Homo sapiens: one gene and its partners. The protein of the gene in region 1 purifies or fractionates together with the protein of each later gene. This does not show direct contact. Each region holds a gene or a part of one and is shown on either strand. Other genes may lie near its edges.

Region 1 (3,500 bases):
CCCCTTTGACCCTTTCCATTTTGTCAGTGTTGTCTATTCATTTAGACTAAGGCTATGGCAGTCAAAAAGTCGACAGTCAAAAAGACACCTTTTACTTCCTGATTACCAAGTGTGGAAAAAAAGTAAAAAAAAAAAAAAAAAAAAAAATCAAAAACAAAAAAGACACTTTTGGGGCTGGGTGTGGTGGCTCATGCCTGTAATCCAAGCACTTTGGGAGGCTGAGGCGAGAGGATCCCTTGAGCCCAGGAGTTCAGGACCAGGCCTGGCAACATAGTGAGACCCACCCCCATCTCTACAAAAAATTTAAAAATTAGCCAGATGTGGTGGTGCATGCCTGTAGTCCCAACTACCTGGGAGGCCGAGGCAGGAGGATTGCTTGAGCTCAGGAGGCTGAGGCTGCAGTGCACCGTGCTTGTACCACTGCACTCCAGCCTAAGCAACAGAGTGAGGCTCTGTGTCAAAAAAAAAAAAGACACTTTTAGCCACAGACATACTTAAAAATTGGTACATTTTACATTAAAATATCGATTTACGTCCTCTCTTAAAAATTGGAAAATCTGGGCAAAATCTGGGTTCACTTTTTTAAAGAAATTATTTTTATTTCAGTAGCTTTAGGGGTACCAAGTGGTTTTTGGTTACATGGATGAATTGTAAAATGGTGAAGTCTGTCTGGGTTTTTAGTGTACCTGTCACCCAAATAGTGTACATTGTACCCAAAGGTTAACATTTTTGCACAGGAACAATATACTGGAACTAAATAGTGGCTGCCCCACAGACAGGCAGGTCACATGCTCTGCATTTGACATAGTCTCTGAGATTCCCTATTGTTTTAAACAAGTCATACACTCATTTACATTACCTGTCAATTATATTACATAACATTACCTTACATTACATTTACATTACCTGACCCTGAATACTTGAGTATGCAGTCCCCGATCTAAGTATTAGGGCAAGTATATCTGATGCATCATATGATGGAAAGTCTGCTGTACTTAGCAACAGGAACTGGGACTTTAAACATTGTAGATATATTTTGGTTAGCAAACCTCTTAAATAATGTGATCATGGGAGTGGGAGAAGAGATTAGCATTCATTGACACTAATTGTTAGTGTCGATTAGAGCTGGAAGGGACCATATATTGCTAACCAAAACAAATAAAATACTTTCCCTGGTGGGATTTTAGAAAGCATGGGGAAGATATTTCTGCTAAGGAAGTATTTCCTAGGATCTTGTAAATAATCTTTTTTTTTTTTTTTTGAGACGGAGTCTTGCTTTGTCACCCAGGCTAGAGTGCAGTGGCATGATCTTGGCTCACTGCAGCCTCTATCTCCTGGGCTCAAGTGATCCTCCTACCTCAGCCTCCTGAGTAGCTAGGACTACAGACATGCACCACCATGCCTGGCTGATTTTTTAATTTTTTGTAGAGATAGAGCCTCACTATGTTGCCTAGGCTTGTCTCAAACTCATGGTCTCAAGCAATCCTCTTGTCTCGGCCTCCCAAAGTGCTGGGATTACAGGTGTGAGCCACTATGCCTGGCCTCCTTAAAAATTCTACTCCCTGTCCATTTGAGAAGTGTTTAGGAGAGTTTTTGTGACTCCTACAGCTTGGCTATAAAGAGGAGTTTACTGTTTTTCTTTTGCCTCCCCATTCCACTGACATGTTTGGAGCCAGAGATCCAGGTCTTCCTATTCCCAGCTGTGTCCTTCAATGAAAGATCATCTTCCGCTTGCAGAGATGGTGAGGAGGCCCAGACTCCAGTGATTACCACATCAATTTGCTTGGGAACAGAACTCCTGAAGCCTCAGGTTTCTGGTTGTTCATGGTATTTAGTTTAGCATAAATTCACCCCATTTTATTTTTTATTATTTTAGTTAGTGCATCTAGATCATCAGTCTTCCTTTTGTAGATAAGAATCATGTGTCTTATTTGGGATGATTTTGGATCAGACAGTTTTCCTGTTATCTCTTTGTCATTCATTCACTAGCTCAAATACGAATAGAGCTTGTACTATGTCCTAGGTGTTGTGCGAAACACTAAAACTATAGAGAGGAATAGAGCAGTTCTTACCTTTCAGGGGCTCATAGTTTGGTGGATATACTTCGAAAAGTATCACATACTGTCATATAAGGGCAAAGTGTTATTTATACTTATTGCGGAAGGATATCAAGGCAGGTTGAAAGATTCAAAAGATTCTTGATTTTCTTTCTTTCTTTTTTTTTTTTTAGACAGAATTTTGCTCTTTTGCCCAGGCTGAAGTGGCACCATCTCGTCTTAGTGCAATCTCCACCCCCTGGGTTCAAGTGATTCTCTTGCCTCAGCCTCCCGAGTAGCTGGGATTATAGCCATTCGCCACCACGCCTGGCTAATTTGTATTTTTAGTAGAGATGGGGTTTCACCATGCTGGCCAGGCTGGTCTCGAACTCCTGACCTCGTGATCTGCCCACGTTGGCCTCCCAAAGTGCTAGGGTTACAAGCATGCGCCACCGCACCTGGCCTTTTTGTATTTTTAGTAGAGACGAGATTTCACCATGTTGGCCAGGCTGGTCTCGAACTCCTGACCTCAGGTGATCCACCTGCCTCGGCCTCCCAAAGTGCTAGGATTACAGGTGTGAGCCACTGCACCTGGCATAAGATTCTTGGTTTTCGGTGAGGAATTGTGTATTGGTAGGAGGGAAATAGATCACTACTTCGTATAGGTGAAATAGGATCTAATTTCATATTTTTGAATTGCAATGAGGTTTATGACAGGTTTTATAGTATCATTTTTACTTCATTATTATTTTTTGGACATTTTATAGTATCATTTTTATTTCATTATTATTATTTTTTGGAGACAGGGTCTCGATCTTTCACCCAGGCTAGAGTGCAGTGGCGTGATCAGGGTTCACTGCAGTCTCTATGTCCCAGCTTCAAGCAGTCCTCCCGCCTCAGCCTTCCGAGTAGCTGGGACTACATGTGTGCACCACCACACCTGGCTAATTTTTCTGTTTTTTGTAGAGATGGGGTTTTACCATGTTGCCCAGGCCTCACCCTCCTAAAGTGCTGGGATTACAGGCATGAACCAATGCACCCAGCCTATAGTATACTTTTTTTTCCTTTTTTTTAGAGATGGAGTCTTGCTCTGTAGCCCAGGCTGGAGTGCAGTGGCCTGATCCCGGCTAACTGCAACCTCCACCTCCCGGGTTCTAGCAATTCTCCTGCCTCAGCCTACCAAGTAGCTGGGACTACAGGCGCACACCACCATGCCTGGCTAATTTTTTGTATTTTAGTAGAGATGGAGTTTCACCATGTTGGCCAGGCTGGTCTCGAACTCCTTAGCTCGGGCAATCCACCTGCCTCAGCCTCCCAAAGTGCTAGGATTACAGGCGTGAGCCACCATCCATGGCCAGCCTATAGTGTAATTTTTTTTTTTTTTTTTTTTTTTTTTTTTTTTTGAGATGGAGTCTCATTCTGTTGCCTAGGCTGGAGTGCAGTGGCACAATCTCAGCTCACTGC
Region 2 (3,157 bases), on another chromosome or scaffold:
TCCTCCCACTTTCGCCTCCCAATGTGCTGGGATTACAGTCATGAGACACTGCGCCCAGCTATTTTCTTGTTTTTAAAAGAACTCTACTCTTTGAAGATAGAGACACAGGGGTCATTGTGATAGCCCAGGAGGGCAATAACAAGGGCCTGAGCTCAGTTCTGGCACTGGGTCTGGAGAAGGCAGGGTTGAATAGTAGTTAAATCAAGCAATATTTCGCTGTAGACTTGCCTATGGAATCAGAATTGAGAACCTGGAGGAAAAGCTTAAAGGGTCTCAGAGCAGACAAAACAGATGCCACAATCTACACCAAAGTTGTGCATCTTCCTCGCTGGGAAGAAGCTTTCTCAAAGCCTGCTGACTCTGCCTTTATCCACAGTTTTAATCATCGTAGCAGTTCGGAAGCAGCCAGTTAGAAAGTGGGGCTGTCAAAGGTGGACGCATTGATCTAAGTGTGAGGAAACAACTGACAGCTTGATGCGAGGGAAAAGTCCTACGATTGTACAACTCAGGAACTTTACTAAAAATCGCTGAATTGTAAGCTTAAAATGAGTGACTTTTATGGTGTGTGAATTACACCTCACTAAAGCGGTTTTTTTGACAAAAGTGGACCAAAAAACAATGCAAAGAAATTTTGAGAACTTGGAAGACGCAAGAGTGTGTAGAGTCATTTAGTGCAAAGGCAAATAGCACGTCATCCCTCTCAACAGATGTAACTGGGACTGGTGGTTTGTTAGTTAACAAAAAATATTTTTTTAAGTTATATTTTTTTAAGTTAGTTAAAGGAGGCAATCATGGCTGGGCACGGTGGCTCACGCCTATAATCCCAGCACTTTGGGAGGCTGAGGCGGGAGGATTGCCTGAGGTTAAGAGTTCAAGACCAGCCTGACCAACATGGTGAAACCCTGTCTCTACTAAAAATACAAAATTAGCCAGGTGTGGTGGCGCACGCCTGTAATCCCAGCTACTCGGGAGGCTGAGGCAGGAGAATCACTTGAACCCAGGAGGCAGAGGTTGCAGTGAGCGGATATTGCACCATTGCACTCCAGCCTGGGCAACAAGAGTGAAACTCCGTCTCAAAAAAACAAAAACAAAAGGAGAGAATCATAAAAATGATACATACATTCTTTTTTTTTTTTTTTTTTTTTTTTAGACAGAGTCTTGCTCTGTCACCCAGGCTGGGGTACAATGGCACAATCTTGACTCACTGCAACCTCCACCTCCCGGGTTCAAGCAATTCTCCTGCCTTAGCCTCCCAAGTAGCTGGGACTACAGGTACCCACCACCATGCCTGGTTAATTTTTGCATTTTTAGTAGAGACAGGGTTTCACCATGTTGGCCAGGCTGGTCTTGAACTCCTGACCTCAGGTGATCCACCTGCCTCAGCCTCCCAAAGTGTTGGGCTTACAGGTGTGAGCCACGGCGCCCAGCCAATAGATACATTTGGTTTCTTTGTTGTTGTTGTTTTGTTTTGTTTTGTTTTGAGATGGAGTCTCACTTTGTCTCCCAGGCTGGAGTGCAGTGGCATGATCTCGGCTCACTGCAACCTCCACCTCCCGGGTTCAAGCAATTCTTTGCTTCAGCCTCCCGAGTAGCTGGGATTACAGGCACCTGCCACCACACCTGGCTAATTTTTATATTTTTAGTAGAGATGGGGTTTCACCATCTTGGCCAGACTGATCTTGAACTCCTGACCTCGTGATCCACCCACCTTGGCCTCCTAAAGTACTGGATTACAGGCGTGAGCCACCGTGCCCGGCCGATACCTTCTTTAAACCATTTATTTTTGTTTTAAACATAAAACATGCGAGGTGTAGTGGCACCCCTCTAGTCCCAGCTACTCAGGAGGCTCAGGTGGGAAGATCGCTTGAGCCCAGGAGTTTGAGTCCAGCCTGGGCAACATGGCAAGACTCTATCCCTAAAAAATAAAAGTAGGCCGGGGTGGTGGCTCACACCTGCAATCCCAGCACCTTGGGAGGCTGAGGGTGGATCACTTGAGGCCAGGAGTTCAAGACCAGCCTGGCCAACATGGTGAAACCCCGTCTCTACTAAAAATACAAAAATTAGCCGGGCGTGATGGCACACACCTGTAATCCCAGCTACTCCAGAGGCTGAAGCAGAAGAATACCTTGAACCCGGGAAGCGGAGGTTGCAGTGAGCCAAGATCGCGCCACTGCACTCCAGTCTGGGTGACAGAGCAAGACTCTGTCTCAAAAACAAACAAATAAATAAATAATAAAAATAAAACATATACATTCATTTAGCATATTTTGATGCAGGACCAGGACCTTTTCTTCAAGGAGGCCCTCCCTGGTTGGAATCTGCCATGTCTTTCACACAAATCACACCTTAACTCCCATTTCCAGTTTCCATTTCTTTTAGGTAGAAAAATAATTTAAAGTTCATCTGAAAGCAAAGTCCTAGTTTTTACAATGTTTTCTCTCATCTTTTTTTGAGACATTGAGGTATAATTTGCCTATGGTAAAATTCATCCTCTGTAGTGTGTCGGTTTAAGAGTTTTGACAAACACACACAGTCATGCAGCCACCATCAGCCAAGATATAGAATATTCTCCAGTCTTTTAGGGCTAGATCTTCCACACCCAATTCGGCCACAGTTTTTTTAGCATCATCTTTATCAAGATTTTCTAAAGCATTTAATTAAGTTTTTATAGAAACAACAACTCTCTTTTTGTGCTCATTTCATCAATTTATATTATATTTCATTAAATTATGCAATTACAATAACAAATGTAATTCACACCAGAAAGTTTGAGACCAAACACAATTGACTGTGGGTAACATTCAACTCAGGTGTGCAGGAGCCTCAAGGAGCCTGCTGCCTTCCAGGGCTCGGCGTTTTGTGGACATCTGTCAATATGCTTTACAGGAGAAATGGAGGCGGGTTAAGCTAGAGAGTCATTGGGGTGAAGATCTGCCAGGATAGCTGTACATGAATCCCTGACCAGTGCAAACTTTGGTATTCTTGTCATAGTTCCTCATCAGTAGGGAAAAAGCTAGATTCCATTCTGTATCCTGAGCCTCCTTAAGAAGAGAAGGATACAAAGCATTTTAGAAAGTTCTAAATTATCAGCACAAGCCGGGCATGGTAGCTTACACCTGTAATCCCAGCACTTTGGGAGGCTGAGGTGGGTGGATCT
Region 3 (2,739 bases), on another chromosome or scaffold:
TTTATTACCTTCACACACAAACACCCTTCCACACTCCAAAAGTCTAGAATTCAATTATTTTATACTTACAAACAGTATGTGCAAATTTTCTGAAAAGTTTCTATTCTAGAGGCAAAGCAAAATGAAAAAGAATGTACATTATATCTGAAAATGCTTCAATGATTGCTCTTGTTTATAATGAAAATGTTTTTCTTCTAAAATTACATTTTGTACAATGAAGTGTAATACTCTTCCCTTTCTTTTCAATCCCGTGTAGACTTTAAAACAAATAGAGTATCCTTAGAATCAAGCCATAATTCTAATGACATTTGAAAGATACATTCATTTTCTTTACAGCATGAAAGACACACAAATAACATTTTATCTCCTTTAAACAATGAAATTAAAGAAGTTAACAGTTTCAACCTTCTGTCCATAGAAAAATATTTTCTATATCCTTTACACAACAAAGGTAGGAAACTCTACAGTGTTTAAATGAAACTTTTATGAGCTTAACAAGGCTTTCAAACATTTTCATTCTTGCACTGAAAAGTTTAAAAGGTTTCAGGAAGTTAAACCTTTGAACTTTCCCCTAAAATGGTAATCTTTAACTAGCAATATTGCTACTACCTTTTGCTTAGTAAAATTTTTTTAAACTGGTTTACTTATGTATATGCACTGAACCAATGCTGATGGATTGCACCCTAGCAGATATTACTTCTGGTTGCCCATTTAGCTTGGATTACTAAAATAAAAATTATGATTATAACTTCAGAAATCAATAGCATACTACAGTAGAAAAACATACAAATAAATAGCAGCAAATTTATATGCAAACAGAAATAACTATGTGGTGTCTACTCACAACAAATTCATCAGGACTATAAAAAAATATCTAACTTCTGGCAGAAACAGAGATTGCTGTTTGTTTTTTATAACATTGTAAGACACACTGTAGTAATTGCTGAGTATCAATGAAGTCTATATAATGGTTGCAGACACGGTAAGTTGAACAAAAAACATACAAATTAGGGATTAATTTACTGGGTTCTTAATAAAATTGCTGAAATTATTATCAATTAGCCCTCAAAAATGTTTTAGGATTATGTAATTTCCATTTTATCTACATAATTCTCTAAGAGTTTTATAAAATGGTTGCTACAACTTGTATTGTGATCACACTGAGACACCAATAAATCTCTGCCAAGAGATCAGTAAGTCTGATATTTGATAAAATTAATCCAGTAGGTTTTAATAACATAGTTATTTCACTTGGAGGAAGCACCACAAAAAGAATGATTCCAGCAATTGTAGTCAGATAGGTGAAGCAAATGGGGGAAGTAAGCAATGTTAATACAAAGTATTAACTGTGGCAGCTCACATAATGCACCAGCTTTCATCAAAGCAGGCTGTTGCATAATTTATCTATGTCCTATTACATTGAGATTTTTATTCCAACAAATATTTAATATACTTTATTTACTATAAGTGACTGAAATGCAAATTCATCTGAACTATAAAGTAACTACCACAAAATAAAAGAGCCTGTAAACATATCCCACATTATTGTGGTATAAACAATTTTTATGAATTCAAAATTACTTTGGCAACCTTACCATCAGAGTATTTTAAATGTTCAAAATACAGATATTAAATAGCACATTGTTATAAACTAATGTTTCCTTCTCTCTTCCTGATATTATAAAACAAGTAATGCTTTATTTACTTATCTTACATGTTCACATTATGAACACAAATTATTTCATTATAAATGGACATATATTCTAAATCTTAGTTCTATGTTTTGAGTGCTTTTAAAAAATTAGTCTTCTAACTGCAGTCTATAATGTTTTCATACTGCATGTGTTATCAGTCTAAATACTTTACAAAAGCTTATGTTCTGTCAGGCAGGCATGACTAGCAAACTGAGTGGGGGTCCTAATTAGAATCACTTCTTAAGCCTGCTTATTTTCTAACTTAAGTGACATCCTTTAAGGTTGTCATAGTTATTAAGTGAAAACATTGGCTGAGTATGCTTCTCTACTGGAAATAGACAAAAATTCACAAGAATTTATGATATTCACATAGGTTATAATTTATTGAAGTTCCAGTATAATATAGGAATACTAGATAGATAATTAGAAAGCAGATCATATAAGACCAGACTGCTAAATCAATAACCATTGCTGAACCCTATTTCCTAATGCCGATAAAAATGGGCTAAGTGAAGACTGGATAACATTTTTCAAGTTCCTTTCAGCTCTCAAGCTGCAGTACTTCTAGTGGAGATAGAAGACAGGAGACTTTTCCTTAAATACTCTAGACCTGATCAGACCCTGCCAGCAGATGATAACCCAGAAGTTAAAATAATCATTTTCCTCTGTGGGCATTAGCCTTTGTGAAATATACATATAAATAAACACACAAAAGTAGCTCTATGTGTGTGTACACATATTTGAAACCTTCCAGCAATTGTCTTAATGTCTTAACATACCTTTGCACAACTGAAGTCAGATTTCATGTAATAAATGTTCCCTTTACTCTTGATTAAAATCATCAACCACTCCCCTCTCACCTCTTTCTCCTAGCAGACTGTAGAAAGGAAATCATTTCTTAGGCTGTTTACTCTGCCTCTATTTTGAATGGATGCATTGGTTTAACAAATACTATCAATTTTCTGGTGAATGTAAAGTCTATTCCAAATACTCCTCATCATATTTACATGGTGCTGACACAAATCAGATGCTCAATAAAACACCT
Region 4 (4,283 bases), about 17 Mb from region 1:
TCCGGTTCAAGCTGCCTTACTCACTTTTTTTTTTTAATTTAAAAAAACTTTGGATTTTTTGTAGAGACAGGATCTTGCTATGTTGCCCAGGATGTTCCTGAACTCCAGGCCTCAAGCAATCCTCCCACCTCGGTCTCCCAAAGTGCTAGGATTACAGGCATGAGCCACCACACCTGGTTCACCTTACTCACTTCTATTCCAGGACGGTTCAACTATGATGTTTTGGCTCCTCTTCTCAAGCAGCTTTCCACACCTGGTTCCATGATCTCTTCTGGCACAGTAGCTGGTATTTGGCAAACATAGGTTTCATCCTGGGATCTCAGGGATTGAAATCTGTCCTAGGTGTGCACCAGAAAGTGGTGGCAAGAGATGAAGCTTCGGAGGAGGCTGACCTCGGCCAGGATTCTTAAGTCTCAAAGTTTCAGCTTTCTCACCCCTCAACGGACATGAAATCTACCTATTTGTAACTCCAGGGAAGTAAATGAGATAATGTTTGGAAGATATCTAGTCTACCAGCTGCTCAGGCGGGGGGCGAAGGTTCTGTTCCCTGTCCCTTCTCTATCAAATGGCTTTAAAATCAGAAGAAAGTATTACGGGTAGGAAATGGGACTGCGAAAAAAATGGAGGCTGATTCTGGCCTAAAGGATACTTATCTCTATACAAAGGGCTTCTGATTCAAAGAGGCCCCGGGATTCAAAAACACAAGCAGAGCTACACCACGTGGGGTTTGGGACGAGCTGAATTCCGGATAAAGATGCCTGTAAAGAGGAGTTGATGCGAATCCAGAAAAGCACTTGAAATGCCCAGGCTTTGCATGGCACATTCCCCAGGATTTTTTCGCACCGCATTTAGAGGTTTAGACGGAGTGAGCTCGAATCAGGCCAAAAGCCTTAGGTTACTCCTGGGCGGCAGCGGGGCAGAGGTCAGATCAACAGGTGTGGAAGGCTGCGAGGTGAGGGAAGAAGCAGGTGTCGGTGGAGGCCCCAGTTCCTCCGGCCCAGAGGCTCCAACGCTGCTATTGGTGTTCCAGCAGCGGGCGGAGGGGTCCTGCCCGGCATCTGGGCGCGCTGGGCCCAGAGCCCGGGAGGAGGCAGACGGAGGCGGCGGGTCAGCGGCGGGCCAGCCCCGGTGGGCTTCCGCTCCCCTCCGCCGGCCCGGTCCGGCCCGCCGCGGAGGATGCCTGGAGGTTGACGTGAATGGCCTGTGGCTGGGAAGCCCCCAGGCGCCCTGCCTAGCCCGGGGGCGGGGCCGCCTAGCCGCCGGCCCCGGTGGCGTGAGGGCTGGGGCGGGGGCCGGGGACCTCGCGGGGAGGGAGCGGGAGGGAAAGCGGCCCCCGCGGCCCTTCAATTGGCCGCACCGCCCCTCGGCGCAGAGGCGGGAGGAGGCGGCCCTCCATTGGTCGGGCCCGGCGGCCAATCCTCGAAGGCCCAGGCGGAGGCGGGGGCGGCCTGTGGGGAACCGAGGTGCGGGCGGCGAGCGAGGCAGCCGGGTGCTTCGCAGCGGAGCTCGAGGCTCTGTAGCACCCAGTTGGACCCAGTCGCCCAGGCACCGCCCGCGCCCCGCGGCCGTCTCCTGCGCCTCCCAGAGGAGGGAGTTCGAGCATCCCCCGCGGCGGCCACTCCTCGGGGCCAGGAGCGGGGAAGCGAAGTGCGAGAGACCCCGGACCCCAGCGCTGTCTCTTCCCGCCGCCCGAACCACCATGACCCACTTCAACAAGGGCCCTTCCTATGGGCTCTCGGCCGAAGTCAAGAACAAGGTACGCCTGGCTCGGGCGGGCGCGGGGGCCCCCGGGGCACCCTTGGGCTGGCCTGGCGCTGGGCCGTGCTTCGTTTGCTCTTCGCGCTGTGGCTCACCGTTTTCCTGGAGAGGGGCCGTCGAGGCGGCGCGAGCGTCTCTGCCTGTCCCGGTCGCGTCCAGTCCCCGGGCTTGCGGGGCCGGCTCCCGGGCACCCGCCTGGCTTTGTTCCCGCGCCGTGGGACAGGACTAGTGGCTGGCGGTGGGTTCCCGGGCGCCTGGAGTCCCGCGGCGCCAGCCTTTCCGGCTGCGGGGGTCTCGGGGGCCGTTTGGTGACTGCAGAACGCGCCCTCCGGGAAGGGGGCGCTCCTGCGTGGCCACTCGCCCTTAGGCGGAGCCCGTCTGCGCGGCCAGGGACCCGGCGAGCCGCTGCCGCAGCCCCCGCCATCTGCCCGGGCCCCGGGTGCTGGCGGACTCCGCGCCTCCCCACGGGGAGAGAGACCGCCTAATGTCCCGCCGACCCCAGGGGCCCCGAGGAACGGAAGCCGGTCCGGGACCCATCACAGTCTCCGATCTCGGTGCCTGGGAGGCATTTGGAGGCAGATTGCTGCTGCTGCTTCTGCTGTTGCTTTTGCGGGAAATGGAGACAAAGCCTGAGCGCGCCACTGTGCGAGTGATATCTGCTTAGGCTTGAGACTTTTTATGAAACACTGAGAAGTTTGAAGTACATTAGACTTTCACGACATAAAGGATTATTTTTGTGGGTTGCTTTTGTTTGGGGCTTGTTTGCTGAGGCGGCTTATAGTTTGGAGCGATTGGGATTTGGTGACGCTCAGCTTTGCCACTGAGCCCAAGAATGCGTTAGGTTTATCTTTAGGACTTTTGGCCTGGGAAAGAGATGAGAGGCGTCCCCCTCCCCAAATCCTCTCCTTCCTTCCTCCCTCCCTGCATTCCAAGCCCATGACATCAGGGGTTTCTGGGGGGAGAGACCAGCCAATCGGCGCGGAACTGTGCACAGAACGCTCATTGTCTCCTTTCTGCTGTTCTGGCCAAAGCGCCACAAAGGAGGGCTGCCTGTGGTTTAATTCCCATTAACCTCCCGGGAGCCCAAGCATGTCAGGATTGCCACCGCACCGTCCGACCGCTGGTGGAAGGCACTGGCATTGTCAGAGCTGGAACATCCCGGGGCTGCGGGGGTAGGCGGTGTGAAGCGAATTATGTAAAGAGGTAATGAAGCGCACCGTTGTCAAACCCCAAGGGAGAGTTGTGGCTCTTGTCTCCCGCTGTTAGTCTGCACATCATACTGTCTTTGAAGCAAGGAGTTGATTTTAGTCTATGTATCTAAAGTTGAAATGTTTAGGTCCTTTACCTTTTCAAACGTGTTGCCCGTATTAGACAACAGTTTGCTAACAATTTTTTTAGAGAGCAGAAAGGTGAATGGTTTGTGTATGATTGAGTGCAAACCTCACCAACTGAAAAGTTTGTAACAAGTTACTGTTTCCTTCCTTCCAGGATTTACAAACCGAACTTTAGGAAACTTCAGAGGAATGGGCATGTCCAAAATGTTGGATGTGATGTGATACTTTGGCCTGGTTGTGCACATTCATTGTAATTCCCCCCAGTGATTCTTGGCTGGCAGCAGTTGAGTCTCTACTACCTTTTGCATTGTAAATGAGGTACTGATAACGTTGGCAGCCCTTCAAGTGACTTACTTTTCTTGGATGTTAATAATATCCATGCTAATTTCTTTTTTGCTGACTAATGTAGCAGCTTTTGCCCTTTTCCTGCTTAATACTGAGCAGATCCAAGGAAATGCATACACAGGCTAGATCACTGTAATTATTGTAAATATTTAAAAACGGTAAAACCTCAGTTTTTAGAACCTTTGGAAAGTTAGTTATGAAAGCTGTGGATTTATCCCTTTAAGCACCAAACCCATTTTTTAATAACCCGTTTCATTTTTGTAGTCCTTTCAGACAGTATTCTTTCATAGGAAGTCTTTTGATCTTAACAGCAGAGCAGTCCTGTAAGGTGAGGAGGATTGCTGGGATTATCCAACATCATTTACAGATCAGTACACTGAAGCTCAGAAAGATTTGCTCAAGGTCACAGAAGTTGGACTATTCTAAGAATTTTAACTCTAAAAGCGATGTCTTAGTTGAGTGAAGTACTTAGGGATGTTCTACACAAACTCTGCTGTCTGTCGCCTTCCCCCCATTTTTTTTTCTTTCTTTTTTGAGACGGAGTCTTGCTCTGTCGCCCAGGCTGGAGTGCAGTGGCGCGATCTCAGCTCACTGCAACCTTCGCCTCCCAGGTTCAAGTGATTCTCCTGCCTCAGCGCCCCGAGTAGCTGGGATTACAGGTGCCTGCCACCATGCCCGGCTAATGTTTGTATTATTTAGTAGAGACAGGGTTTTGCCATGTTGGCCAGGCTGGTCTCCAACTCCTGACCTCAGGTGATTCCCCCTGCCTTGGCCTTCCAAAATGCTGGGATTACAGGCGTGAGCCATGGCGCCCAGCCCTTCCTCCCATTTTTGCTACCCACCTGT

The links. Proteins that work in one complex are often made in the same cells at the same time.
Region 2: the proteins of NEXN (region 1) and CORO2B purify together in Homo sapiens (co-immunoprecipitation; one large-scale study listed by IntAct). This does not show direct contact.
Region 3: the proteins of NEXN (region 1) and PTPN4 purify together in Homo sapiens (co-immunoprecipitation; one large-scale study listed by IntAct). This does not show direct contact.
Region 4: the proteins of NEXN (region 1) and CNN3 purify together in Homo sapiens (co-immunoprecipitation; one large-scale study listed by IntAct). This does not show direct contact.

What each region holds. Positions count from the first base shown.
Region 1 is NC_000001.11:77,891,624-77,895,123, forward strand, and holds part of NEXN (nexilin), read left to right. Parts: intron 1-3,500. UniProt on the Homo sapiens protein: Involved in regulating cell migration through association with the actin cytoskeleton. Has an essential role in the maintenance of Z line and sarcomere integrity.
Region 2 is NC_000015.10:68,721,993-68,725,149, forward strand, and holds part of CORO2B (coronin-2B), read left to right. Parts: intron 1-3,157. UniProt on the Homo sapiens protein: May play a role in the reorganization of neuronal actin structure.
Region 3 is NC_000002.12:119,979,922-119,982,660, reverse strand, and holds part of PTPN4 (tyrosine-protein phosphatase non-receptor type 4), read right to left. Parts: 3' UTR 1-2,739. UniProt on the Homo sapiens protein: Phosphatase that plays a role in immunity, learning, synaptic plasticity or cell homeostasis. Regulates neuronal cell homeostasis by protecting neurons against apoptosis.
Region 4 is NC_000001.11:94,924,311-94,928,593, reverse strand, and holds the start of CNN3 (calponin-3), read left to right. Parts: upstream 1-1,483; 5' UTR 1,484-1,699; coding exon 1,700-1,756; intron 1,757-1,853; exon of another isoform or gene 1,854-2,234; intron 2,235-2,824; exon of another isoform or gene 2,825-2,961; intron 2,962-3,246; exon of another isoform or gene 3,247-4,283. UniProt on the Homo sapiens protein: Thin filament-associated protein that is implicated in the regulation and modulation of smooth muscle contraction. It is capable of binding to actin, calmodulin and tropomyosin. The interaction of calponin with actin inhibits the actomyosin Mg-ATPase activity.